4 linked regions of the Homo sapiens genome follow. The protein of the gene in region 3 purifies or fractionates together with the protein of the main gene of each other region. This does not show direct contact. Each region holds a gene or a part of one and is shown on either strand. Other genes may lie near its edges. The genes, in order: CDK5RAP2, ITPR3, FGL2 and ZNF282.

Region 1 (7,022 bases), on a different chromosome or scaffold from region 3:
TCTGCTGTCACCTCATCAAGGCAGAGGGGTGAAAGATAACTAAGGCCAAGGAGTTAGCTCCTCCTGTGCCCCTCCAAGAAGTCCTGGGTCAATTACTGATGTCTTAAGACTCGCGTACCTCACCCTACCTACCGTTGAGAAATAGCTTTTCCAATTTCTCCAGCAGCTCAGCACATTGATTCAGCTGTTCCTGGAAACCCTCGGCCACACAGTAATCCACATCACTGGCCTGCAGCAACTCCTCAAATGCCTTAATCATGGTGTTCATGTGTTGACGGGAGATGACACAGATGCCATGGCCATCCTTAATCTGCTGCCGTTGAAGGGAGAGCTCCCTGGCTTGGGACTGAACTAATGAATCGTATCTGATAAAAGAGGGGAAAGAAAATACTTGGACCATTTTAGAATTGAATTTTTGTGACCTTAACACTAATTGGAAAAATGACAGAGTACAATTTTTAAAAGCCTGCAGCTGTACAAGTATATATACTTTTAGAAAAATTGAAACTGTACAAGGTCAGCTCTTCTTTGATTTCACACAGCCAACAAAGGCTGGAACAAAGATTCTTCTGCAACATTTTTAACCTTATAAAGCCCCCAATTAAAGTACAGATTGGCAAGAACTCAGGCAAACAATAAGTTTCCATACACTCTTCAAAAATACTATTCTGAATTGTAGAAACAAGTGCCCCAAGGGTCAGAGGATCTACCAAAAATTCTCATGAAGTGTGATAAAGAAAGTGTACCACAAAGAAAAAAAGACAGGACTCTCTCCTCCCGAACAAAACGTCACTGAATAATCATGATGCTAACTACCATTTACTGAGGGTCTAGGACCTGTCAGTAACTGAATTCAGTGCTTTATATGTTATCTGATCCTCTCAGTCTTCCAACAAATGTATAAATGTCCCCTTTTACAGAAGAATAAACTGACTGCAAAGCTAATTAAGTGGTAAAGATTTTGGATTCAAACACAATTCTCACTTTGAAGATCATTATGCAATATTACCTTTTTACCGTCATGTGCCACCTTTTCCTACGTGAGCCCATAAGAGAAAGACACTGAGAAGTAAACAGGTTAAGGGAAATGTGACTCATGTAAACTGGCCACAATAACCTTGCTCCAGAGAGTAGCTTGGCAAAGATGTTGACACTTCAGTTCAACATAATTTTCTCCTTCCTGGAAATGACAACACTACATGGGCTGGCAGTCACCTTCAACATAGAGTGTGCACATGCAGATTACATGATACCAGCATTAAAGGTGGGGGCCAGTATCATGTGAGTACTGGAGTAACATGGGTAAACATGGGTAACTCATGAGTAACATGAGTAAACATGGGTACTGGAGTGGGATGATGTGGGCTTGAACCCTGGCAATGGCTCTGACCAGCTCTGTGAATGTTCTCTGCCAAGTCACTGCAGCTACTTTGAGGCTCAGTTTCCCTACCTGTAATAACTAGTTTAAGAATACCTCCTTCTCAGGTGATTTTGAGGATTAGATAAGAAAAGTGCCTAACCAGGGGCCTGAGACAACAGCCTTTCAATAATTACAAGCTTCCTTCAATCTCACTGCTTGGGAAGTCTTGAAAAATTCATCCTGGCTCCTGACAATTCAGAACAATGTGTTTGACTCAAATTAGTGACAAATGAAGGTCAACTTTACTAATGATCCCATTTTTGCCATATCTCATGAAGCAAAACCGTATATATCTATGCCCATAAAGCATTATCTTCATGACCTAAGAATTCTTCTCTTTCAACACAAGCTTATTTCTCTAAGATGACCTTAAAGGGTAAAGATATGGAAAATATTTATATTCCTCCTACCTTGCCTAGACATCAGTTTTAGTTTCACAGCACAGCAAAAGCCAGTAACAGAGTCCAGGAGTACACACTGCAGTTCAGCAAAGGCACTATCACTCACCAAGTGACTGGTATGAAACCTTTACCCTGAGCCCCCAACTTGAGGAGGGCGAAATCTGCCCTGCAGATTTCCAGAGGACCCAAGACTCGTAACTGACGTTCAAGTGCGTGGTCGCTGTTCCTCTTCTTTGTGGCCTCACCTCTCCCTTCTCCACAGGACCTGGCTGCCTGAACCCCACCATCAAGCCTTCCCCAGAACACACTCTACCCATCACAGAGTAGTGTTCTCTTTTAGCTCATGGGCTCCCACCTAGTGGCAATACTGGGGGACTACAGGCTTAAACGGGGAGACGGCAGAGGTGGAACGTACCTGGGAGGTGAGAGATCTCTGAACTTATTCTGCAGATTATGGATCTCACTGAAAAGTTGCATGTTCAAATTCTGCTCCTTCTGCAGCTTGTATTCCTGTTCCTCCAGCTGCTGTTTGAGGTTCTCCAGCACCCTGCTGTCAATCATCTCTGGGGCCAGCGGACCGAGGATTTTCACGTGTTTCACGTATCGCACTTGGTGCAAACTTGAAAAGGTCATTTCTTCCCCATCAGAACCATTCTTGGGCTTGCTCAAGCCATCCTGGGCCCCTTCTGTCCCACACAAAACTGTAATTATGGCCTCACTGCACTGGGAGTGCTTTTGAAGCTGAAATATGAAATTCTGGTAGCCTTCCAGCTCAGTTTCCAAGTCATGGATTTTCTGTTTTAAGTATTCTGTCTCATTTGAGGTATTAATGCTCTCTGACTGATCAGTCCCCATCACACTGACTTTAGCAGAAGGCTGACTCTTGGAACTCAGGTAAGTAGCTACTGAAGTTGGGCTCAGAACATCTTCAGGATTTTCTTTGCATGATGGCAAGCTGGCAAGGTCATCAGGTGGGCAAATCTCAGAGTCTGAAAATCAAATACACTTATGTCAGTATCTCTTTTACTAAAATCCAAACCCTCTCTCCTTCCTCACAGCCCTAGCCAAGCCAAGACCACTGCAGTGACCTAACAAGCCTCCCTCAAAAAGGCCCTAGTATTTCCTAACACACTTCCCTCAAAAAGCCTCCAGTCTTTCCTAACAAGCCTCCCTCAAAAAGCCCTAGTCTTTCCCTCTTTACCCCTCAGTTGTCCTCTTCCTCAGAGTGACTGTTCTAAAAAGTAATTTTAACCATGATAAACCCACACACACACCCCCTAAAATTCATCGACATTCCCAGTATCTACATGAGACCTTCCATGATCTAGTTCCAGGCAACCTTTCCAGGAATATCTCTGGCACCACTCTGGAGATTTCCTACAAAATTAACCATGATTCCCTGCACATTGCGTGCTGTGTCATGCCTCCATGCTTTTGCATGGGCCGTGCCCTCTGCCTGGAACACCTTCAGCCCTCTATTCTACTCCTACCTAATGAACTCTTTCCATACCCAGATCTAATTTTCCTTCCTCTGCAAGCCCACTGCCAAACTATGCAAAAGTCACAACTCGCTGTGGTTCTGTAGCACCTTATGCATATTACTCAAGACAAATATACTATGTGCTGGGTGCTAAAGTAAAAATTTTAAGTGGCTTATTTATTGATTCACATAGCAATTCGTCATCTGAATGTAGCTCTCCCTCACCAGACTGCACGTTTCTTCACAGCAGAGATGTGGCCTTTCATTTTCACATTCTCGGCGTCTAGTACAGAACCTAACCCAGACCAGAAGTCAGTGCCAGTGTGAGAAATATTGAGAGATTCTGTGAAGCAACAGTAAAGAGTGGTAATTCTGAATATCCACAACACGTGACAGTCTTCTCATTTCCATGTCTAATGGCTTCCAGGAGATGCCCTGACATCCCCTTTAGTGAGGTGTTTCACTCACTCACAACACTGCCAGGAAATATTTCCTTATAGCTAGTAATAGCTAAACCCTTAGAGATGCAGTCAAACTTGTTTCAGAAGTGGAGTAGTACAGCAGAAAGAATATGAAGTTTGAAGGCCACACAGCCTGAGGCAAGTGACTTTACTATCCAAGAGCCTCAGTTTCCCCTGTGTCTAAAATGTAGAAAGAGATGTCTCATATGGTTGTAGTGCAGCTTCTGTTCTTAACCACTGTGCCACACTGCTGGCTGCCCAGGGAAAGTTCCGTTCAATATAGAGAGCTGTCTGAATACTTAAGGGGCAGCGGAATGTAGTAGAAAAACCTGTCTTTGAAATTCAACAGACATGGTTTCAAACTCTGGCTCTGTCACATAGGCAAGTTACTTGACCTCTCTGAGCTTTAGTAGCTTTATCTGTAAAATGGAAAGAACATCACTGAAAAGTTGTGTGTGTGTGTTTGTTTTTAGGGATTATATGGAACAAAATCTGCAAAAAGAAAAAAAAGGCTAGCACAGTGTCTGGCACATAGTAGTGAAGGAATCCAAGTAACACAAACATCCTCTAACCATTCCAAGATAGAAGGAGATGCCCTTCACCGGAGGCGTGCGTGCGAAGGCCAGCCTGGAAAAATGCTACAAAAGCAACAACGTGGGTTGGACTGGGTGACCTAGGAGATCTCTCAGAAAGAAATTCACACACAAATCCTCATCAGACTGCATGTCCCAATTTCTGGTTCTGCAATCTGCTCCTTGTGACTTGAGGTACACTCTTGTATCTGTTCATGATGCAAATACCATAAAGTATGGCATTTCATTTCAGAAAGCAGCTGCTACCTGACCTAAAGGAAGCATTCCTAATACAGTATTTTTATTATACACAATGTTATGATAATTACTCAATAAGAGCCTTGAGGGTGCAGACCGTGTCATCCATGTCTGTTTCTCCAGTATCTAGCACAGGGTCTGCGACAGAGAATGTACTCACCAAGTATTTCTGGCTGAACAAGAAAGAGAAAGAGGAACTGGGGAGGGAGATATCTCTCCATAAGGCTTTTTTTCCAGTGAATCACCCTCCAAGACAAGAAAATATCTTTGCTGTAATAACCTCATGATAATAGAATTTGGTCTGTACTTCATGGCAAGAAGCGTGTTCACTCATGGAAATAAAGATTAGTTCCCAGGACTTTCCTTAAGTAATTATGAGGCATCACTAGTACCCCCATTTTACAGAAGAGGAAGTTGAGGCTTAGGGAGCTTAAGAATTTGCTTAGGGTTCAGGGTAGGTAAGCAGTAGAGCCCCTCCTCAAAGCCTGGCAGTCTGCCTCTAACACTCTGAATGATGCTTCCCGAAGTAACACTCCTGCAATCCAATCTCCTGTACCGCGGTGCATGAGCAAAGAGAGAGAGAGTTCTTAACCCTCAATGTGAAGGCCAAGATGCCTGTAAAATCCTTTATTCACATCCCAAGTATCTGTCAAGGGCCTTGTGAAAAAGAAACAGCAATGAAGATGTCACACGCAGCACCCAGCCTCAGCTGCGCAACAATTAAAAGGTGGAAGTTCAGGCAGATGCAATTCACATACAAAGTTCTGGAAGCACATTCAGAAAAATGAAAGACATTCAGTAATGAAGGGAAGTACTGACAGGGAAAGGGAAGCTGTCGATTAGTTAAGAAGTCTGTATTAATAACTATCAAGAAGAAATCAAAAGATGTCCCCAAGACCATTTATGAATATTTGCATTATAAGAAATACTATAGTTCTACAACTTTCCACAATTCAGCTAAGGGGGACTTTATTGCCTGGTAGAGTAGCTTTCTCCTCAAAGCCCAGAACACGCAGAAGCATGTGACCATGTGTTCACTGCAGTGACTCTGGACCTTGCAAAAGTATACAACAGTGTATATACCACAACTCAGTATTTTTCCAGAGACTGGTGTCCCCATGGCCATCCCATGACAAATTTAGGATTCTTGAGGACAATTATTTCTAACAGAGTGAATTAGATCTGGATTAATAGTGATTTTTTTTAATGAAGGGGGAAAAATATCTAACATAAAAAGAATGTAGGCATTTGTTCATTCTGGTTGAATGAGAACATGAGTATTTGTTATATTATCTTTTGTGCTTATGTATGCTTCTAATACTTCATAATTTTAAAAAGAAAGGAATACAACTTGCCTCTGCCCTCACCCGTATCTCTGCACCTTTTCCACTGATCTGCCTGGCAAACCCCACAAACCCAGTCTCAGCCTCAGGCTCTCTTCTGACCCACTCCTCCTGGGCACACGGACCAACACCAAGCACACCTCAGCAACAGGCAGCCCCGCGCTGAATACTAACAGGCTGTTGGGATGATTGTCTCCTCCGAGCTGTGGGGTCCCTAAGAGCAGGCTGTGTCTTTTCATGTTGAACCACCAGAACCCAGCCCACTGCCTGGTAGAGAAGCATGCTGACACATGGACGGGTGGGTTCTGACATCCTACTGTACCTTGACTCTTCTCCTACTTACCAGCTGGGTGACCCTGGGTCAATTATTTCTTAAAACCTCAGCTTCCCATGTGTTAGACTGGAATGATAATAATGCCCTGAGAGGGCTGCTATGGGCTTAGTAATAATTTTTAGATAAAACATCCAAATGGTGCCTGGCACATGGAAGCTGTTCAATACACACAGGGGCTGAATTCTGACCAATCTCGTAGCTTCTTTGCTGATCACTGTCCATTTCCTTGTCTCTCCAGACAGAAGATGTGGTTTTAATTCCTTTCTGCTCTCCTGGGCTGTCCTGGTAGGCTGCTCCCACAGGGGGCTGAGCTACAGGCAATCACAAAGAGAAAGAAAAATAAATAAAACCGTAAGACCTGAAACTTAGCCAAGCAACTGAGAAGAACACAAAGATACAACAGGGAAAATAAAAACACTGGGGAGGCAAAATGCAATTTATAAGATAAAATTAATCTATCGAGCTGCCATAACAGGACATAAAAAGCATAAATATACTGCAGCTTGTCTGAAATGGTTTAAGTCCAGGCTCTCAAAAAGCTGAGTGAGAAAATGAATTCTATCAATTCGTGCCCATTTTTCCCAAGAAGAGAGAGGCCCTAGGGTCTCCTGGGCAACTGTTTGAGGTAGCACCTGGAGTTGAGGCACTCTGGTGTCTCAGCAAAAAATAAAAACAGTATTGAGTGCAAATGGCAAGCTAGGAGCCAGCATGGTGGCTCATGCCTATAATCCCAGCACTTCGGGAGGCCGAGGC
Region 2 (7,022 bases), on a different chromosome or scaffold from region 3:
ATAAACCTGTACACAAAGATCAGTTTGAAATACAGACTAAACGATAAATAATTCCTTCTTTATGATTCATTGCCTTCACTCCATTATTACAGAAATTGGACAGATGACATTTGATTTCTGTAAGTGATTTTTAAAGTTTTTCCAGGCTCCCCTTCAGCCCAGGATCATCTAATTCAGACTTTTTAGGAAGCAGCCTGCCTTCCCACCGAGCTAGAAAACACTCCCTGAGAGCGGCCCACAGATCACTGGCCACGGGCAGGGTCTCCCCAACTCCACCCCTCCTCAGCATCACTGCACGACAGGCCCAGGGATACCACACGTGTTCTTCGGGGCGCATGGGTTTGCTGTGGGATTTTTCCTGACACCCAGAAGTGTGAGGAGGCCCCTCTGCAGCAGCGGCTTCCGTGCAGCCCAGAGCTGCTTCCAGCTGCTGCTCCTCGCCCTGCTGACCTTTCAACAAGTGTCTGCAGCTGTCCGAGCCCCTCTGCCTGGCCTCCTAGGGCCAACAGTCAGATAGGGCCACTCCTCTCCAGGGCCCAGGGTACTCAGAAGCTAAAACCATGAGGCCTCTGGTGCACAGTGATGACTCTAGAATGGCTGGTTTGGGCCCACAGGCCTGGCACAGCCCCTGCTCACACCTTGATCATCTGGGCCACGTAGCTCTCAGGGCCCGTGTAGTCGGTCTTGTTCTTCACGCGGACCAGCACAATGAAGTACAAGTAGTTCCACATGTTGTGCTCCAGCTTGATGTGTTCCTCAAATGACACTGTCTTGTTATCAAACTTGTCCCTCTCCAGACCTGAGGGTGCAGAGGGCGGGAATGAAACCATCAGCCTTCAAGAGCCACTGCAGGGTCACCTGCTGGAGGGGACCCAGCTTCCGGGGGTTGGAGGCATTTGTTCTCGGGATGAGCGCTTCCAACAGCTCGCTCTGGGCTATTTGGGTCACTTCTATTTAAAGCAGCAGCCACTTAGTGGAGATCCTGCCCTGCCGCAGCTGCAGCCCTCCCGCAGCAGCAACCGAGGACTCCAGGAGTAAACGCGAGAATTTCTCGAACTCAGGGGAAGCCCGAATGGCTGAATGAGCGAGGTCCTACAGGCCATACAGGTGACACCTGCCTGAGCCCGAGGTGGCTGGTGAGGGGACTAGCACTTCATTTCAGGGGTAGGAAAAGCACTGGACTGAGACCAGAAGCTCCAGACACTGACTGGGCTCATGTCCTCACCTAGAAACCCCAAGGGTTTACAGGGATGGGCCTGTCCCACTCCTTTCTGACTCCAAGTTCAGGCAGGGTCATGTTCTCCCCAGTTCTGGGATGAGCAAATGCATCAAGTCATCAGCTCCGGGCCAGGGTTCCCCAGGGCAGGAAGGGCCAAACCGCTACTGCCACTGGCATCAGATGACGTTCCAGCCCCGCTGCGGCCTCCACAGAGCAGGAAGCAGCCCTCACCACAGATGAAGCATGTCGTCTTAAGAATCTCCTCCTTCTTCTGCTTCTCACTACGCAGGTCAGCGAAGGTGTCGATGATTACCCCAAAGATGAGGTTCAGCACAATGATGATGACGATGAAGAAGAACAGGAGGTCATAGACCACTCGGGCTGGGAAGAGAGACTCCTGCAGGGGATGAGGCAGGGAGGCTGGGCCCGGTGGTCCCCACATTCACTGGGGCAAGATAGGACTCAGGTTGGGGCCAGGGCTGTGATATTGAGGACCCAGCCCCTAGCAGAAGGAAATGAGGGCCTCTGGCCTGGGGGCCATCAGATGGCAGAGTGGACCCAACCTGGCTCCACAGAGCAAGAATTGCAAGCAGAAGCCCTGAGTTTGGGTTAGGAAAGCGTGGACTCAGGACACGCCGGGGTGGAGGCCTGCAGAAGGAGTCTGGCGGGGAGGTAGGGCTACGAGTCTCGGTGTGTCTCTGCCCCTAACATTGATGAGGGAAAGAGGCAGCTCTGAACACCTCTGCCCACCCTCAGGACGCCTGGCCTCACACATTCCAGAAACCCTCTGTCTGGCCAGGGAGGCGGCCTCTCACTCCCAAGCAACAGGGGAAGGCCTGACATTCGGGAATGTGGCTGCCCAAGCCAAATCATGAGGCCTCCTGATAAAGCTGACTCAGCTCCGCCCTCTGCCCACCTGCTGTGGGCTAGGAAAGCCAGTGGTCACCATCCCTAGCCCTGGGGCAAAGTTTGGTTGCCAAAGTCTTTCCTTATGGAATGGGAGGGTGAGGGGGCAGCTAAGCAGTAATATCATGGAATTGGCCAGGTGTGGAAAGCAGGGAAAAGTGGATACAAGTTCGGGGGAGGGGGTTCAACCCTGAATATCTGACGCGAGGCCAAGGACAGGACTCTCCACAGTTGCTGATCTGGACAGTGGCTTGGGCCCCACAGGTTTGGGAGTGGGCAGGAGTGCTCACATCTTTGGAGGGCTTGCGGAGAATGTCGCCCACGCCACCACCGTTGCGTAGCCCATGGTTCATGACAGTGACGATGCACATCAACAGAGTGTCACAGGCCCGCTCTGTGCTGTCCAGCTCCCTGTCCTCTGCAAGCGGAGAGTGTGCTGAGGCCCGGGCTGCCTGCTCCTCCTACCCCACACAGACTCCTGCACACACACCACCCTCACCTTCCAGGACCTCAGGCACCGAGAGCCCTGAGACACAGTCCATCTTGTCCCCACTGCAGGTGTCCACAAATGCAGCAGCTCCATGTGGCATCCCCAGGGGGCTGGCTGGAGGGGATATGGATGAGATCATCAGGAGGTCCAGTGCCTGGCCTTATCCCCTGGCTCTGTCCCCAGTGTCACATCCTCCAGGAAACCTTCCCTGGTCCTGGATCGCCAGCCCTCCACTGTCCAGCCACAGTGAAGGGTCATCACGCTTCTGCCCCCGACTGGGTTGCACACTAAGGGCAGGGAGGGGTCTCTGTACCCCTAGGCCTGGCACACGGGCAGTTTCTGCAAATACTGGGTTTAACATGAATGACAGTTCAAGGGACTCCAGCCCTCAAGCAAGGGGTTCCTTAGGGGCCAGAGACCCAAGGCTCTCCCACCCACTCAGTGTGTTCCAGAAAAGAGCGAGGCAGACTGGTGTTAGCTAGACGTCCCCAGAAGCCAAGAGGAGAAGCAGACGGGAGCCTGGTGAGGTAAGCGCTGCAGGTCCTGGTCCTGACGCCAGACATTTGTGAGACCCAACCTCATTCCCCACAACCTGCCCAGGAGAGGAAGCCTCCAAGACCTGTGGAGTGGTTGTTGGGCAGCCGGTCGACCTCGAGAATGAAGTCATCCTTGAGGAAGAGGAAGCCGACGATGGAGAAGAGGTAGACCAGGATGAGGGCCAGCAGGGCTGTCAGCAGGATGGAGCGGCCATTGCGGGTCACACTCTTGATGACGTTGAACAGCGTCTCCTCGCGGTAGATGAGGTCAAAGAGCTGCAGGATGGGGTTGAGATAGGGATGGCACCTTGAGGGGCTGGGCCGGCCACTCTCACTGGGGCTGCCACTGGAACCCTGAGGGCTGCCTGGGCTCCAGACAGTTTCCCAAGGCTCCTCCAGGGAGGTCTGCACTTAGTCGTATCCAAGCTGGGTGGGCCTGTCAGGGGAGCTTCTCGAGAAACCTGGAATTCTAAGGTCACAGAAAGGGAGTGGCCCAGGGGAAGGCACGAGGGGTGAAACGGGTGGCTGAATACCAGCCAACTCTTAAAATGTACTTGCTGCATGCCAGGAAACAGTGTAAGTGCTTTCCATGCATTAGCTCATTTCATCTCACAATTATTTTAGAATGCAGGGGCTGTTGTTATCCCCATTTTACAGGTGAGGAAACTGAGGCATGGGGCAGTTAAGAAACTTGCCCAGTTACACAGCTAGTAGTAGCCCAGCTGAGATGCAAAGCCCTGGTCCAGCTCCAGAGTCCAGGCTTGAACCACCACTGTACAGGAGAAAGGGGTCAGATGGCCACCAGGAGTGGCCATCAGGGCCTTGAGGGCCAGGCTTGGGTCAGGCAGATGAAGACTCTGTAATTTCACTGCTCCCAGCCCAGCAGCAAAAGGACTGGACAGACAGACTGGTGCCGGGGAACTGCCAACAACTCATGGGAAGCCCCAACCACCCCATGCCCCCATCCAGCCCCAGCCCACCCAGAAGGCCTCACCAGGATGCTGTAGAACAGCTCATGAGCAAAGAGGCCCAGGACACTGGTCAGGATGTAGCCCACGTGGTAGAGGAATTCCATGTCCATGACCATGGCCTTATAGCCCCGGATGAAGGTGCCACGGTTGCCCACGAAGCTCACCACAAACACGATCTTGTTGGTCAGCTGGGGGCGAGTGCAAGGCATGAGAGTCAGCACCCTACCACCTATGCTGAATCTGCACGCATGTCCCCCAGTGCCCAGCTCAGAGCCTGGGAGGCATGGCATTAATGAAATTGCTTCCAGAAACGCATCTAGGCGCCTGGGACTCAGAATACAGAGGCAGCCCCTTGGGTCCTCAGTTCCAGGAAGACAGTGAGGTACAGGCAACGGAGGATGGGGACAGAGAAGACCACTGACTGGCTCTATCAGGGAAAGGTATTCCTCGCTCAAAGCACTTTATTTCCATCTGTCAGGAGATTGTCATTATGTATGAATCTTCACGTCTGCCGCGTAGCAGTGCCTCTGGGCAGTGCACAGCCCGCACAGTGTGCACAGCCACCCTGACCCTGTTGCTCCAAAGGGACTCTTGAATTTCTGTCTCTGAGTGCCAGCTGCCCTCAGGTGTTGAGGGAAAGGAAGAAGGTACAGAACAGTCCCTGCCACCGGTCTATAAGGAACTTGGGAGCCCAACAGAGAGGAGGGGATGGGACAGAGCAGTGGCTCCTGGAAGCAGCAGGCCAGCTTGCCGTCTGAATGCACAGTGAGCATGAGCTTGTTTGGGAATGGGGGCTCCCTCTGGCACTCACATTGAGGGCACCCAGGATGTTGAGTGTGGGCCCGATGCCCAGATAGTAGATGGAGCGCAGGATGAGCGCCACGATGAGGGGGCGGATGCTGTAGCGCTTGGTGAACAGGGCCGCGATGGAGAAGCAGATGAGGATCCAGAAGAGCAATGAGATGAGAGGGGAGTCCAGCACGCCTGGGGGCCAGGGGCAGGGTGAGCAGGGCTCCCTCAAGCCCACCACGGCCCCAGAGCAGGTCCAACAGGTGCCGAAAAGCCACCTTCTCCTGGCCGCCTTCCCGGTTAAGTTCCTGGTGCCTGGTTTTAGCCTCCTCCATTACACCTGCCTCTCAGGCCTAAGCGGGAGGCCCTGTCCGGCTGCGGCTACCAGGTTTTGTTTCTGGCTGACACATCTATGCGTGTGCACGTGCCTGCATGCGCCATCTCCCATGAGGTCAAAGACCCTGACCATCCCCTTTGACCGCACCTGTGTCTCCATGATGGGGCGAGAGCCCACAGGATGGCGCAGGGGGTGCTTCTGCACACTCTGCATCTGGTGCCCTCAGAGGCCAGCTGGCCTCAAGGCTCTGCCCCAACCCAGGGAGGAAGCATGGCAGGGCCCGGGGAACCTGCCGGCCAGCCCTGTGTTCTCACCTGTGGACGCGCCCTCCATGTAAGGGTAGAAGAAGGCAATGATGATGTTGATAAACACGGCCAGGTTGAAGGAGATGCTGCCCCACAGGGTCATGCGGCGGGAGAACCAGTAGATCAGCGGCATGCCTGAAGAGGAGGGCAACGGTGAGCTGCTGGAGGGCCCTGGTGAGCACCCCCTGCCCCTTGCATGTGGGGCCCCGCTCAGGAGGAAGCCACACATGGAAGAGCCCTTCCTTGGGGTGAGGCGGGGTTGGGCGCAGGGCACCCACAGGCAGGCAAAGGAGGCCGTTATAACAGGGCATCAGTGAACAGCTCCAGACCGCCCCACCCTCCCGCCCGTGGGTCCTCACTGCGGAGCTTGCGCTGCCACTCCATCTCGTTGTGCAGGAAGGAGGACTGGTCGAAGAAGTCGCTCACTTTGCTGCCCTGCTCGTCCTGCTCAGTAGTGGTGAAGAGCCGGTGCTTGGTTTCCTCCGTCAGGAACTGGCAGATGCCGGGCACTGGGAACACGATCTGCTCCATGCTGCGGTCCTGCCGCACAATCTGAGCACACACAGCACATGGTCACGCCCGGCGCAGGCTCCCACGCCCGCCCCTGCTGCCCACAGGCCCACCTCGATCTGGGACGTGTGGTTCTCATAGTAGGCCAGGGGGTCTTCCTCCTCCTCCTGTGCTGGCGCTGAGGACTTGAGCATCTGTGACAGCTGCTTGTTGTTGAGGCTGAGCTGGAGGTGGGGAGGGCGCGGAGGTCAGGCCCCAGCCTCCACATCCAGGCTGGCACTCAGCCCCCACCCTCCCAGGCCTTCGCCTAGCTCTGAACTACACTTCAGCGAGTGTCCCCGCCAAGCCAGAGCAGGCCAAGCCCAGCCCAACTAGGACTGAGCCTTGAGAACCTGGTGCCAAAGGGAGGGGAGTGGGAGAGCCATGACCAGAGAATCCCAGAGGATAGCGGGGGCCTCCTCAGTCCTGCCCAAGTGTAGCCCGGGTCCTGCTTGAAGCTTCCAGACCCACCCTAGACCCACCTGAGCCTTGCTTCCATTTCTGTCTGGGTTTCACCCACGGCTGCCAGTCCCAATCAGCCCCCTGAGCTGTACCCCCAAATTCTAGCCTGGCTCATATTCTAGGGCCTCACTCTGTTCCAGGCCACGCCCTTGGGTCAAGTGTCCTCCCTGGGTTCCAGGCCCCACCCCCACCCCAGTCTCGGGGCCAGCACCCACCATGGAAGAGATACCCTCGGCCTCCTCCTCTTGAATGCGCTTCACCGGCTTCAGCAGGTGCTGCAGCTGTTTATTGTGCCTGGAGAGCTGAGGGAAATGGCAGCACAGTCACCAGGGTGTGGTGGCTGGGGGACATGGTGGCTGGGGGGCGACAATGGCGACTGGGGGATGATGGCAGCTGGGGCGGGGTATGGTGGCCAGGGGGGTGATGGCCGTTGCCACGGGTGGAACTGGTACCTGCAG
Region 3 (7,113 bases):
GTTGGTGCTCCCATCGAGACGTGCCTGCAGCACTGTCCAGCCTCCCCCCATGGTCTCCATGTCACAGTAAACTTCAAAGCTACTATTTTTGGGATCAGGTGTAACTCTGTAGGTCTCACTGCTTCTTTTGCCTATTGCGTAGTAGTCAGAGCAATCTTTATATATTAGATGTTGAACTGAAGGGGAAATAAAAGGAAGGCATTGGATCTTGTTAATAGAAACCATGCATCTGAAGAATTCTTTATATGTACAAAAGCAGTTTGATAATTGAATCAATGGCAGTAATGAAACTTTACTAAACTTACTTGAACCTGTTTAGCAAATGCTTAAGGCCTCACAAGAAGAACCTAATGTTATAAAGCAGAAAGGACCTCTAATATACTCTTGGTTGGTAGTAATAATGACAGCATCAACAGCAAACGACAATAAGAAAATAATAAAAGTACAGTTTTAATAATTTAGTATTATGTAGTGAGGCCTACCTATACGTTCTAGGCATGCTGCCAGACTGGGTAACATTTTCACACTGAATCTGAACATTGACCTTATGATGTAGGCGTTACTGCCAGTCTGCATGTGAGGATATTTAGGCATAAAGATCAGTGGCTTGCCCACCTTCACCTGAGCTTTAAGTGGCAGAGCCAGGACACTAACTCAGATCTGGCTGGCAGCAAAGCTTTGTTCTCGTAATCATTGCATCCCTTGGTCCTAAAAATCAGATGATTCTAACTCTCCTAGAACTGTATTCCTTGCATACAGAGGAAGCACAGGCTTCTATTTTCTTTCACCTAAAGGGGCTGATAGCCTCTACTGTCAGAAGGTTTTATAGCATATATTCCAAATGATGTGTTAAAATCCTAATGCATAGGATTGATCATAAATTCATATTCATTTCACTTGACAACTATATAAAGAAGCTCAAGTGAAAAAGAAGTATCTTTTTCAATGACACACCAATATTCTTATTCTGTATTTATTATCTAGGAAAGTATTTAGCCACTATTTCACATGTTGGGTTTCTAGAAAGAAACAACAGGTGACTATATTGAGGATAAGCATAATAATCAGTTAACAAAGTTCTGTATGAATCAGACAGATATTTACTCCCAGATAGTTTTTATTAAAATGTGTGACAAATAAGGTAAGTTTAATATGAGATACCCTAAGGCATAAAAATCTATTCCTGTATATTTAGAGCTCAGAATATTCAGTTATTTCACCCAAAATGTTTAGGAGAAAAATAGACAATAGTCTTCATATCATGACAAGTTGCCATGCAGCATCTAATCTAATGTATACCCACTGATGTCACCTAAGCGGTGAACCTTGGATTCGCAGTGTGCCAGGTACATTCAGATGCAGGCTGCCAGGAGTATTACCAATAGAGGTCCTTGAAAATATGACCCTTCCCTCCTTCACTGGCAGATGCCCTGGGGATGGAGCATGCCTGAGATACTGTCTCTAAATGAAAGTGATCTCCGCCCTGTCCTTTCAACCTCACGTTCATGGTAAGTAGAGGTCCAAATGCGGAGATGGCTTTCCAAAGTATGAGACAGTCAGCAACAGTGGTCCCAGTGACTCAGGTGAAAAGCCAAGGTTTGGAGAGTCAATACCACTGTTAGTTCGTGGGTGGAGTAGGCGATTAAGTCTGTGGAATTTCACATGTATTTATTAAAGTTAATTCAAGTAATTTGGATGGTGAGGATGGGTTCTACTTCTATCTGCTTGAATTCTAACTTCAGGTAAAAGAGAAAGAAATATGAATACCTTCCCTTAGTGGCATGCTAAAACTCTCCCCTTAAAATATTTTTTGTGCCACTAGGTCTCAAAGCAAAAATTTGTGCACACATATGAAACTGCTTTTATTCCATCTGTAAACTCTCCCATTTTCTCCAGATATTTGGGATTAAGAACTAGATTACTTGCTAAAATCTTTCAAAGACCTCTTTAGCCATGAGAAGCGGCAGTCAGTCAATCACAAGAAAAACTGATTTCCAACAAACAAGGCACAATTGTGAACATCGCCTTATCTTTATTGTTTTCAAACACCTCATTGAAGAGACAAGTTAAATGCACTAAAACATCAAGAAATTCTCTCTACTTCTGCTTGCAAGTAGGTCTGGCATTAACAAATAAGATCTTAAAATTGAAAGTGACTTCCAGTGGATACAGAACTAACTATGATTTTTGTAATTAGGTCATATTTATGTGGTCATATTTGAGAAGATATTTATTTTTTCCTGTGCACCTTGATAAATAAAAGACTTAATCTGTCATCTATTTAACTTACTGACTCAGGTTAATGTTTATAGATACTCTCTAGCTGTATAACATTTATGAACATATGATAAGAAAACATTATTATACATACCTGGACGTGACTGTATTTGTTCTTGGCTGGGACACTTTGAACATTTGCCATCCAAACTATTGACAACAAATGTTAGATTTGCCACTTTGCTGTCAACATAATTTTCTATGTTGTTCATATTTACAAGATTCAGCTTCTCCAGGCGACCATGAAGTACATTGATCTCCTCTTTGGCATTCTTTAGCTCAGAGGACAGCTTGTTAACCTCACTCTCTAATTCTCTAACTCTGTTATCACCAACCTCTCCCGGGGCTCCTGTACTGGGTAACAACAGTCCGTTTCTGCCTGGGTCTCCGTTGTCATCAGCCTGCAGCTTGCAGTCTTGGCAAGATTTCTTTAGACTATTTACGATTTCCTTGAGGTTTTGGACTTCTTTGAACACCTCCTCGATCCTGCTGAATTGCTTCGGGAGCTGAATAGTCAAGGGGGGCAGGCTTACCTGGTAGGGGCACTCCCCTGCCTCTTCGCATTTCCCTCTGCTTTCTAGTCTCACTGGGCAGACATCCTTTGCTCTTTCATCTTTAATTTCCTCTGTTTCATTGTTTGCCACAACCAAAAAACCGTAAGTGGCAAGAACAGCTGAGCTCAGCCAGTACCAGTTAGCCAGCTTCATCTTTACAGTGCTGCTCACCCCAGCAGGGAGTGCGCAGGGCTGGAGCTGCTTTAATAGCGGCAGCTGCCTGAGTCAGGCTTTCTGTGTTCCCAGGAAAGGGTGGGAGCGTTTGCATCACAAGTTTTAGAAACGCACAGGAAGAGGAGATAGCCCTCATCAAACGCAGTTTGCCAAAAACTGTAACTTACTCTCAATAGAAATAATATGCATTGAAATTATTATAGTCAAATGTACACAGCCAACAAGATTCACTTTCATAATGTATTTTATGAAGTATAAGAAAAGTCTTGCATTTCTAAAGTAATTTGGTATACTTACGCTTGAAGTAAATAATTATACGTAACTTCACTGGAAAAACAGTTTTTAAAGATAAAAAGTAAGAGCTAGTTATCCAAACTGTCTATAGAACAGAAACGTTACTAAAATGAAAATGGTCCTTTTTCCTTCTTAGAATGGGGCATTGGGGAGCCTGTATTTTCTTCATGTTGGACTTTCAGGTGAAATCTTAAGCACTTTTAGAAGTTTCTAAGTGTAACAAAGTACAGCTTTCTGACTATTGCAGTTGACTTTTGCTTCATCTACTTGAAAAAGAGAAGAAAACTAGTGGAGAAAAAAGTGCTACTTTCTATTCCTTTGTCCGTAGCATAGTGTATATTAATGTCTAAATGTCTAAGACCCATTTAAAAGGACATAATTGTCTTTCATCAAAACCAGTAGCTGCCTCCTTTGCCCTTCGACATTTTGGTAATTGTACTGTCATCTTCCACAGCTGCTCAAATGTGAATCTTTGAGCTATGCCAGTGTCTGTCCTGAACTTCTCTTGCCTACAGCATCTTTGCCCTTTCTTTCTGCAGGTAGCCCTGGCAGGCGGGCCTCTTGCTTTCTGTCTCCACGCTGGTTCTTCTACCTGCTCTCTGGGCCACTTGGTATATCAGCTTGTTCAAAACATGTAGCATTAATGATAATAGTTTTCTAACTTTCTCTTCAGAGGCTGAAGGCAGGAAAGAGGAACAGCTTCAGTTAGAGAAACCACCTCCTTTTAATTTGTTTTGCATATTGACATCTCATAAGATTTCTTGTTTAAAAAGGGTTTTTTTGCTTTAAAAATAATTTCAAAATGACTGACATGGGCAAAAATCTAAATGTTTTATTGTATTACTTAAAACACTCTGTAGCCTATCTCATATTTATGTCTTTAACCTGATTTCCTATGACTTTTCTGTATATCCCCTTAATTTTAGCCAAATCCTATTCACATTCTCAAAATGTTGGCAGACTCTTTACTCTTCCATGACTGTATTTATTCTCGCATACTCAGGAGACCTGGCTTCCAACCCTAGATCTACCTCTGATCATGTAAACAGATCATCAGCTTTAATGAGCCTTTGTTCCTGTAGCTGTAGCGGAGGAATTTAGCTATTTCTTCCCTCATACAGGAATGATAGTCATGCAAACTTGGAGCACTTGGCTGGGCGTGGTGGCTCACGCCTGTAATCCCAACACATTGGGAGGCCGAGGCATGTGGATCACCTGAGATCAGGAGTTTGAGACCAACCTGGCCAACATGGTGAAACCCCATCTCTACTAAAAATACAAAAAAAAAAAAAAAAATTAGCCAGGTATGGTGGCGTGTGCCTGTAATCCCAGCTACTCGGGAGGCTGAGGCAGGAGAATCACTTGAACCCAGGAGGTGGAGGTTGCAGTGAGCCTAGATCGTACCACTGCACTCCAGCCTGGGCAATAAGAGTGAAACTCCATCCCCCAGCCCCACCCCTCACAAAAAAAGAAAAAAAAAACTTAGAGCACTTAAGAAAAAAAAAAATGCAGTGTATAAATGTAACATTCTTCCCAAATAAATTTGTCAAACATGTTCTACACACCTTATGACTTTTTTTCTTCCATCTTCATATAGCTCTTTCAAAAATTGTTTTTCTCTTCATTCCATTCAATATATCCAATTTTAGACAAAAACTTTTTAGCTAAAAATATCTATTTAATCCCCTAACTCCTAACCTCATTTCTTCTCACCTATTTTCAAGCTGTGACACTTCCCTGTTGGGAGGTAAGAAATAAATGAAACAATAGATAATTTTAAAAAGGAGACATGATGACAACATAGATAAAAAAAAAAACCATTTTGTAAAGTAGAAATATATAGGAATGATATTTAGTTCCTAGTCCTTAAGGATATTGTGAAATGTCCTTGACTGACTAGAGTATAAATCCCTGCATTTAGTTAGTAAAGTATTTATTAAGGATCTTCTGTATACTCAGCACTATGCTAGAGCATATATAAGATGCGTGCCACAGGCACTTTCATTCATTTATTCCTCATACATATATTGATATACTATATATTTATTCATCATAAATTGACTCTGCACCCTCTGCATGCAAAACCGCTATTCTAGGCACTTGGGCCACACTGGTGAACAAATCAGACAAAAATCCCTTTTTCCTTCTTAGAAAGGGGCATTAAAGACCTGGTATTTTCTTCACGTTGGACTTTGAAATGAAATCTTAAGTACTTTTTAAAGTTTCTAAACCTAACAGAAGTACAGCTTTTGGACTCTTGCAGTGGGCTTTTGGTTCATCTGTTTGAATCAGAAATGTGCGTGTCAAGCACTGCTGCTAATTTTTGGCTGGTCACACCCCAGTTAACCAAGGGCCAATGGCACAGTTTCCCCTAAAAAGCTTGGATGTGCTTTGAGAACTGGCTTCTGTCCCTTCAGAATGCATAAAAAATTCCCTGACATAAGGGTAGAGAACTCCTCTGTTGACCAGTTTCATTGACACTGACAGGTGACCTGCTAGGTTCTCGGTTTAGAAAGTCATTTGGCCACTGACTGGAAGGCAGATGCTAAGTGACTACTGCATGAAAAGAGGCTCAACTCCCCTAATGAGTGTATAACTCATGGAGGGCAGAGAGTGTTGTACCGCCTCTACGGTTCCTCCCTGCACTTGCAGATGAGCAAAGAAAGGGCTCAAAGCAATAAATGACTTGTCTGGTCATTTTACAGTTTTCAGTTTCTGTTTTAGAGTTTTTAAGAGACAGCTGGAATTTGAACCTGTATCTGATTCAAAGTTCATATCTTTTCTCTTTGCCACATTGCCACGTAGGAGGAAAGATAACATGGGGAGGGTATGTGAGAACTATGTGGAGAGCCTGTGCTTAAAGCAATGCTTAGATCAATGGAGAGCCACTAAAGGTTTTTGAGCAAGGAAAATAAAATACTTGCCCCCCCCCCCCCCAGGACTATTTTAGGAATGAATCTTCTGCTGCAAATCAGTGGGAAATGGCATTTTAGGTGAGAGCTAGTAGTGTGGTAGCAGGCACTAGATAAGAGGTGAACCAGTGTGGAGGCAGGAGGGGTAGGAAAGGAGATGGAGGCATTATTACCAAGGCATGATAGAAGCCATGGGATCTGATAAGTGGTGAGAACTGGAAAGAGAGGGACAACTCTGAAATTTGCCTCTGATTGCAGTTAAATGATAGCATGCTAATGACAGAGGTAGCAGTAGGTTGGGGAGAGTGTAGTAGTATTTCTGTTTTCAGTACACTGGGTTTTAAGCATTGACAAGCCACCAAATGCAAATATCAAGCAAAGAGTGGTGGCACATCTAGGTATGAATATTGACACAGAATAGATGTGGATGTTAATTTGAAATCACGGGAATCAAAAAGATGGTCAAAGAAATAGGATGAGAACCAGGAGAGTACAGGAGCGTCATGAATACCAGGAAAAGGGAGGGTTTCAAGCAGGACTAGGCCATCAGAAAATCGAAACCTGAAGAGCTGACTTGTCCTTCACTACTAGGAGTTCCCACCTCATGACTTGACCTTCTGCCTCTTCTCTCTTGCTGAAAGCCCTTCTGGATTCTCTCATGCTGAGTCTACCCTGACTCCTAGTATCGGCTGCTTATTCCTCATGGCGGTGTCAGAATCTTCCTTACTACCCTGAATCTGTCCTTGACCCAGCACTGACACATTACACTCACTTACAGACTTGTTTTTAGATTTAAGCAAATTATTTAACACCAATACATGGTGGGATTTTAAAGTAGCAAAATTTATTTCTATAAGCCGCATATGAAATTTTACTTTCATTAGTCTATATTCACATGTTCA
Region 4 (7,935 bases), about 72 Mb from region 3:
CGGCTGTCCCCGTGCGCCCCTCCAGGTTCAGCAGCTGGCTGGCCTGGGCATCCACCTTCCTCTCCACAGCCTGAATGGCAGCCACCACAGTCCAGAGTGAGATCTCTGCTGTGGGCAACTGGGGCTCTCGCATCATGCGGTCGGGGAAGACAGGTGCCCTATCTGGAAAGGGTGGGAACTGAAAAGGCATTGGCCGCCGGGCGTCCATGTCCCATTCTTGAGCCTGTATGCAGAGGGAGAAAGCGACAACCCAGGATGAGACCTTGTGTGAGCCGGGGAAGTCAGCTGGGAACAGGGGTCAACTAATCAGATGCTACATGTCGTCTTTCTTCTGCCAGGCCCCCGTAACTCAGGATACACTAACACCCCCAGCAACAGCTACCCACTCACCCACCCACCCAACTCAACACTCTCCCATCTCCTGCCTAGGTGAGTCAGGCTGGTCACTGGTTCACCCACATTGACCCTTAGCAAGTTAAGGCTGCAACCCCTGCCTAAAATGTCACAGGCCACTTTCTTTGAATAGACCAACTGATTTCTTCAAGGGCTAGCCTTAATGACGAACTTTGTATTTGCCTAGTGTTTTATGTTTCCAAGAACTTTGATGTAAGTTAGCTGACGCTAATCTTCCCAGCAATCTCTCAGCAGGTTAGGGCAAGAATGATGATCTCTGCCTTAAAGATGATGAAACTGAAGCACAGGGAGGCAGCTGGTCACTCCGCAGCGCCTCCCTGCACTGCCAGCTGGGGCAGCTCTAGATGCTGCAGGTAACAAAAAACACATTCCTGGCCAGGTGCAGTGGCTCACACCTTCCCAGCACTTTGGGAGGCCAAGGCAGGCAGCTCACTTGAGGTCAGGAGTTCAAGACCAGCCTGGCCAACATGGCGAAACCCTGTCTCTACTAAAAACACAAAAATTAGCCGGGTGTGGTGGTGGGCTCCTGTAATCCCAGCTACTTGGGAGGCTGAGGCAGGAGAATCGCTTGAACCTGGGAAGCGGAGGTTGCAGTGAGCCGAGATGGTGCCACTGCACTCCAGCCTGGGCAACAGAGCAAGACTCCGTCTCGGAACAAACAAATAAACAACAAAAAAACCCACCACATTCCTACCAGGGCTGCAGTCAAGGAAAAGACCGGAGAGCCCAAGCTAGGGCAGAAAAGCAGCTTCCCCCCATATACAACTACTGTTTCATAAACATTTTCCAAATTGAAAATAGGTTCACTAAAAAAGGTCACTCATTAGAGGTGAAGAGGGGATGTCCCTCACACCCAAGAGGACCAAGAGAAAGAAAAACTCCTCTGGGACCCCTCCTTGCTTCCTGGGGAAGGGGTGCCCCATGGCCTGGGGACTCCCCCTTTTATCTTCCAGCACAGAGCCCTCACCCCAGAAGGGTAAACTAATTGGTGCAATTGAGAGCTGAGACCTATGGCTAAGGGGGGCTGGTTGAGGCTGGTGACAGTTCACTGGTCATCTGGGACCTGGTGTCAGACTCAGGGCTCACTGGACCACATGGGCTGGCAGCCGACTCTCCTTCACACCTGGGACAGGAAGAGGTGTCATTTTCTGTCCTCCCGATGGCTGCAGAAAAGGCCCTCAGGCTAGGAAAAGGGGAGGCCTGCTGCTTGGGGCGATCTGGGCAGACCAGCCCCACTCTCTGACTCAAGAGCAGCCCTGCTCCGGGGCAGACCTGCTCCGGGACACAGCAGAGTGGAGAGCAGGGCCCTAGGATCGCCAGGCCCTGTAATACCAGTAAGAGGTGCTGGTGTTTCCATCAAAAGCACCCATTCCTCCATCACAGAGGCTCCACTCCGCCCTAGCCCACAGAAGGGGACAGAGTCCACAGTAGAAGTTAAGAAAGTCCCGGGGCCCAGTTTAGTTTTCTCGGGTTTGAAGCCCTAACCCTGAAAATGATCAAACACAACACAGCAGCCCCTGGCTCCCTCGTTAGCACCTGGCTGAGAGCCGCGTGGTGAGCAGAGGGGCCCCTGAGCAGCCCAGCCCCAGGGTGGGCCCAGAGAGTCTTCCCTGGGCAAGCTTTCAGGCCTCTCTGAGGATCCACCTCCCCTGGTTTTATACCCAATTCTGGAGCACCGGTTCTGCCCACGGAGATCATCGATGGAGCCTGAAGAAATGCCTGGTGCTACTCTCACCCGTCAGAGACCCTGAGCTCTGGGACCAGGCAAGGGCTCAGGAGTCTTAAAAGCTGCCCAGGCCATTCCAACATGCGGCCAAGTTTGTCAACCGCAGGAAAGACCCCGAAGTCATCTCTCCATGGCCCCCTCCCTGGATCACACCCGGTGCAGGGGGAGAGTGAATTACTCATTACACTTGGTGAAAGGTGGTAATCAAACATTTAAAAAATATCCCCGTCAAATTGGCCACCGTGTAAACACGAACGAGGCATTCACTTCTGCGGCCGGGCGGAAGCACTGCCCGCGAAGCTCTCCGCCGGCCGGGCGCAAAGGGAGCCCCAAGCCGGGGCTCAGCCACAGGGTCAGAGCTCTGCCAGGTCCCGGAAAGGACGGTCCCGGCCCCCGCCCCGCGGGGCCTCCGCACTTGGGCCCGGCGACCGCTGCTCCGCGCCGCGCGGGCCAGGCCTGCCCTTCCGGGCCTGCGTCGGGCCCGCTCCGTCCTGCCCGCCGCGCAGCCCGGCCGTGCCCCGCCCGCCTCGGGCCTCGCCTGGGCGCGGAAGCTGGGAGGGCGCCGCAAGGCTACCGGAGGACGGCGCGGCCCGGTCCCGCGGCCCAGCCCGCGCCCCGCCCCCACGGCAGCGCGGCCATGGCGCCGGCGGGGTTCTCCCACCTGCATGGGCGGCATTCCCTCGGCCATTTCCCCGCGCAGCGCCGGCTCCTGGTGGCAGACCTCCTCCGGGGGCAGAGCCTGGGCCCAGCTCCAGCTCCCGCTGTCCAGCCCCAGGCCCTGGATGCCCAGCTGCTGAGGCTGCGGCCGTGTTGACACAAACTGCATCCTGGGAGTGCTGTTCCCCGCTCGGGTCGGCCAGGGAGAAGAAGAACGTTTTCCAGGCGCCTTCCCCCTCTCCGGGGCCGGACAGCTCCATCTACAGCCCGTAGGAGCAAACAGTCCCCTTCGGCGGCGCTCCCCGCCCCTTGGCAGCCCGCGCGCCAGCCAATGGCCTCGGAGCTCCTGCCCGCCTGCGGGGACCTACCGGGGCCACTCCCGGACTGGGGTCGCCACCGCCCCAAAACTGAGAGGCGGCGGCCTCGCCCAGGGGTCAGGCCCCCTCAATCTGGGATGGCCGACTTTAAAGGCCCAAACTATGCGAGGACCTGGACTGTGGGCTTGATTACTGTTAATTCTGCAAATGTATTGGGCATCCCGGGAGAAAATAGTGCCTGACCCTTGTGAAAATTTTGCAGGAGTAATTCTGTCTTCAGACACTTTCTTCTGGCCTTCTGCCTTCCCTCACTCCTTTGCAGACTTTACCTCCCACTCCCCTTCTTCCCAATCCAGATTTACCTGGACCCATCCCAGAGCTTTTGCACTGTTATGGATGATAGAGAAGTGATTCATGTTAAGGTGTCAAAAGAGGGCTGAGCTCTTTCTCCCAGGTAAGGTGCAGTGCATTTTAACAGTGGCCTCTTCAAACACCTTGAAATTGGGTTGGGCGTGGTGCCTCACACCTGTAATCTCAGCACTCTGAGAGGCTGAAGCAGGAGAACGACTTGAGCCCAGGAGTTCGAGACCAGACTGAGCAACATATTGACACCCCATCCCTATAAAAAATAAAAATTAGCCGAGCGCGGTGGCTCACATCTGTAATCCCAGCACATTGGGAGGCTGAGGCAGGCGGATCACCTGAGGTCAGGAGTTCGAGACCAGCCTGGCCAACATGGTGAAACCCCGTCTCTACTAAAAATACAAAAAGATTAGCCGGGCGTGGTGGCGTGGGCCTATAATCCTAGCTACTCGGGAGGCTGAGGCAGGAGAATCGCTTCAACCTCCGAAGCGGAGGTTGCAGTGAGCCAAGATCGCGCCAGTGCGCTCCAGCCTGGGCAACAGAGCGAGACTCCATCTCAAAAAATAATAATAAGGCCGGGCGCCGTGGCTCACGCCTGTAATCCCAGCACTTTGGGAGGCCAAGACGGGCGGATCACGAGGTCAGGAGATCGAGACCATCCTGGCTAACACGGTGAAACCCCGTCTCTACTAAAAATACAAAAAAATTAGCCGGGTGTGGTGGCGGCGCCTGTAGTCCCAGCTACTCGGGAGGCTGAGGCAGGAGAATGGCGTGAACCCGGGAGGCGGAGCTTGCAGTGAGCCGAGATCGCGCCACTGCACTCTAGCCTGGGCAACAGAGCAAGACTCCGTCTCAAAAAAAAATAATAATAATAATAATAAAATAAAAAATAAAAATTACCCGGGCATGATGGCTAATGCCTGTACTCCTAGTTACTCAGGAGGCTAAGGCTGTAGGATTGCTTGAACTCAGGAGTTGGAGGTTGCAGTGAGCTGTGATTGTGCCGTTGTGCTCCAGCTTGGGCGGCATAGCAAAGATCCTGTGTCAAATAAATAAATAAATAAACCTTTAAATCGGGCAGTCATGGTGGCTCACACCTGTAATCCCAACACTTTGGAGGCCAAGGCTGAGGCCAGGAGTTCAAGACCAGCCTGGGTGACACAGCGAGATCCCTTCTCTACAAATAAAACCCTTTAAAGGCAGGTCAGTGTCACTTTGAAACATCAGGCCAGGTCAGAGGAGGAGCCAGGGAGAGGCCAGTATAAGCTGATGAAGATGGAGGAGGGGAAAATTCAGTCATTCCAAATGTATTTATTGAACACCTACTGTGTGCCAGGTACTGTTTAGGAAGAGGGTGAGCTTTGCAGTTGCATACACCTGAGTTTAAATCCCAAAATCACCACTCACTAGCTATGACTTTGAGCAACTTATTTAACTTCTCTGAGCCTCATTCTCTTCATATATAAATGAAGAAAATAATGGCAACTCTATTTTAATGTTGTAAAATTAAATGAGAATTGTGCCTGGCACATAGCGAGCATTCTGCAAAGATAGTTACCCCCAAAAGGTGTTTTTGTAATTATTCTCAAAATAGTATTTACTTTGTTTTCCTAAAGGACCAGTCCCTGTCTTGTTAAGGAAGAGATCTCTGAGGCTCATCACCTTGTGTGGAAGCAGACCTGCTAGTACCTTTAAGTTCCACTGCACTTCATAAAATAAAGGACATTATTGGCCTACGTGAGACATGTGCTTAGAAGGCCATATTCAGAAGAACAGTTACCAAGTACTTTCTCTGCTAGGCACACTTCTAGGATACAGAAATGAGTATTCACAGACTTAAGATTATCCTCAAGGAGCTTATAGGCCAGTAAAGTCCATGCTCCCAGAAGTCAGTGATTTCCTTCCCTGCTTCCTGGCCCTGATTGTAAACATCACGTCCACTTTTATTAGAGGAACCAGGCAAGTTAAGTCTGAAAAGCTCTAGGCAAATTCATTTCCACCAGCGAGCCACATTTCAGAACACGTCTTCTGCACTGTAGATTATCAACTATCTTTTCTCTTTCCTAGAGGTGATAAAGGAAGGACTAGGTTAGTCCCAAACATTTATGCTATCTTTTCTGTATAAAGCCTTTAAAATGACTTCCCTTCCTAAGCACTTAACTAGTTATAACGATGTCCTTTGTTACATAGTAAGACATCGCTGTAGTGTGTCTACTTCACATTTCTCCTTCACAGCGGGTGGATTTTCATGCAGCCATCAACACTATCACCCTTTGTGACCAGAGTAGTTGCTCAGAGCTAGAGGTCCCATTCATTGTTAAGATGATCCCAGTACTTTGGGAAGCCGAGGCGGGCAAATCATGAGGTCAAGAGTTTGAGACCAGCCTGGCCAATATGGTGAAACCCCATCTCTACTAAAAATACAAAACTTAGCCAGGCATGGTGGTGTGCGCCTGTAGTCCCAGCTACTCTGGAGGCTGAGGCAGAAGAGTCGCTTGAGCCCAGGAGGTGGAAGTTGCAGTGAACCGAGATCCTTCCACTGTACTCCAGCCTGGCGACAGAGCAAGACTCGGTCTCAAAAAAAAAAAAAAAGAGATATATGAGCAAAGCTACTCAACTCAAACAATTTAAATGCACAGGCTTCATTGTACTTGCAATATTTTATTTTATTTATTTTTGAGACAGAGTCTCACTCTGTCACCCAGGATGGAATGCAGTGGCTCAATCTCGGCTCACTGCAACCTCCGTCTCCCAAGTTCAAACAATTCTCCTGCCTCAGCCTCCCGAGTAGCTGGGATTACAGGCGCTTGCCACCATGCCCAGCTAATTTTTGTATTTTTAGTAGAGGTGGGGTTTCACCATGTTGGCCAGGCTGGTCTCAAACTCTTGACCTCACATGATCCACCCGCCTTGGCCTCCCCAAGTGCTGGGATTACAAGCATGAGCCACCGCACCTGGCCACTAACATTATTTTATAACCACCAAGCCTAGCAACCACAGGCCATAAAAGGCCGTAGTGGATACCAGCAGGAAGGTAGTGAAGGGAGTGATTAAGGAGAACTTCCCAGAAGGAAAACAAGCAGGGAATGAGGAGGAAGCTGCTGTAGCTGCACAGGCTGTGGGCCCCGTTATAGGTCCTCCCATGATCAACGGACTGATGAGACAGAGAGATCCCCAAGAGTGGGAGAGACCCTGCACTGGGAGAAGTGTTCAGTCATAAGACTGGTTTCCGGAAATCACTGGGTGACTAGGAGACAGTTATCTAACGTACCGAGGAGCAGAATGAGCAACTGGATAAAGTGGATTATAAATGCCATGTATCACGGTTAACACACGTTTCTTGTTAGGGAAGGACCCAGGCCTGGCCCCTCAGTCTCTCAGGTGGGAACTGACTGCTTTTCATCCCCTCCCCTAGGAATTTTATTGTTACTGCTCTGGACAGGATATTTGAAGTGATAGATGCTGAACTAAAGAATACAGGAGAGGCCGGGCGCGGTGGCTCACGCCTGTAATCCCAGCACTTTGGGAGGCCGAGGTGCGCAGATCACGAGGTCAGGAGATCGAGACCATCCTGGCTAACACGGTGAAACCCCATCTCTACTAAAAATGCAAAAAAATTAGCCGGGCGTGGTGGCGGGCGCCTGTAGTCTCAGCTACTCGGGAGGCTGAGGCAGGAGAATGGCGTGAACCCGGGAGGCGGAGCTTGCAGTGAGCCGAGATCGCACCACTGCACTCCAGCCTGGCGACAGAGTGAGACTCCATCTCAAAAAAAAAAAAAAAAAAAAAAAAAAAAAAGGTATACTTCCGTTTGCGGCGCGGCTTCTTTCTTTCCGTGCCGATAGCGCTCACGCAAGCATGGTTAACGTCCCTAAAACCCGACGGACTTTCTGTAAGAAGTGTGGCAAGCACCAACCCCATAAAGTGACACAGTACAAGAAGGGCAAGGATTCTCTGCATGCCCAGGGAAAGCGGCGTTATGACAGGAAGCAGAGTGGCTATGGTGGGCAAACTAAGCCGATTTTCCGGAAAAAGGGCCAAGTGATCCAGTTCTAAGTGTCATCTTTTATTATGAATACAATAAAATCTTGAGTTTATGTTCACTTCAAAAAAAAAAAATACAGGAGAGGCCAATGGAGAGGGGATGCATCAACGCCAGAACATTTATGTCTACTATTTCCTAAAGATTTCTGGTGCTCTGCGTCTTTCCAACAACTGCAATAAAGCTTTATTTGAGGAAGAAAACCTCTAGATTCACTGTTAGTTAAGTGAAGAGGGTAACCAAATTTGCACTCCTATCTTGGTTTTTTGCCCCATACCTAATTTAATGAGCAGGCTACGAAGTACAATGTGGTCACCGGGATAGGGAAAGGAAGGCAGCTCAGCTTCTCAGGCTTCCTCCACCACTGGCATGTCCCTGGTCACAGCTTTCCACCTTCATTTTAGGACACTGTGCCTAGT

Evidence for each region.
Region 1: the proteins of FGL2 (region 3) and CDK5RAP2 purify together in Homo sapiens (affinity purification with mass spectrometry; 3 studies listed by BioGRID and IntAct, with this or other methods). This does not show direct contact.
Region 2: the proteins of FGL2 (region 3) and ITPR3 purify together in Homo sapiens (affinity purification with mass spectrometry; 3 studies listed by BioGRID and IntAct, with this or other methods). This does not show direct contact.
Region 4: the proteins of FGL2 (region 3) and ZNF282 purify together in Homo sapiens (affinity purification with mass spectrometry; 3 studies listed by BioGRID and IntAct, with this or other methods). This does not show direct contact.

The regions. Positions count from the first base shown.
Region 1 is NC_000009.12:120,437,163-120,444,184, forward strand, and holds part of CDK5RAP2 (CDK5 regulatory subunit-associated protein 2), read right to left. Parts: intron 6,581-7,022; coding exon 6,458-6,580; intron 2,811-6,457; coding exon 2,237-2,810; intron 366-2,236; coding exon 133-365; intron 1-132. UniProt on the Homo sapiens protein: Potential regulator of CDK5 activity via its interaction with CDK5R1. Negative regulator of centriole disengagement (licensing) which maintains centriole engagement and cohesion. Involved in regulation of mitotic spindle orientation.
Region 2 is NC_000006.12:33,687,322-33,694,343, reverse strand, and holds part of ITPR3 (inositol 1,4,5-trisphosphate-gated calcium channel ITPR3), read right to left. Parts: coding exon 7,017-7,022; intron 6,867-7,016; coding exon 6,780-6,866; intron 6,288-6,779; coding exon 6,177-6,287; intron 6,106-6,176; coding exon 5,913-6,105; intron 5,689-5,912; coding exon 5,563-5,688; intron 5,107-5,562; coding exon 4,934-5,106; intron 4,311-4,933; coding exon 4,146-4,310; intron 3,428-4,145; coding exon 3,235-3,427; intron 2,730-3,234; coding exon 2,625-2,729; intron 2,544-2,624; coding exon 2,416-2,543; intron 1,617-2,415; coding exon 1,451-1,616; intron 800-1,450; coding exon 639-799; intron 1-638.
Region 3 is NC_000007.14:77,196,810-77,203,922, forward strand, and holds the start of FGL2 (fibroleukin precursor), read right to left. Parts: upstream 3,011-7,113; 5' UTR 2,985-3,010; coding exon 2,372-2,984; intron 1,509-2,371; coding exon of another isoform or gene 1,506-1,508; exon of another isoform or gene 1,426-1,505; intron 177-1,425; coding exon 1-176. UniProt on the Homo sapiens protein: May play a role in physiologic lymphocyte functions at mucosal sites.
Region 4 is NC_000007.14:149,190,621-149,198,555, reverse strand, and holds the start of ZNF282 (zinc finger protein 282), read right to left. Parts: upstream 3,011-7,935; 5' UTR 2,967-3,010; coding exon 2,802-2,966; intron 224-2,801; coding exon 1-223.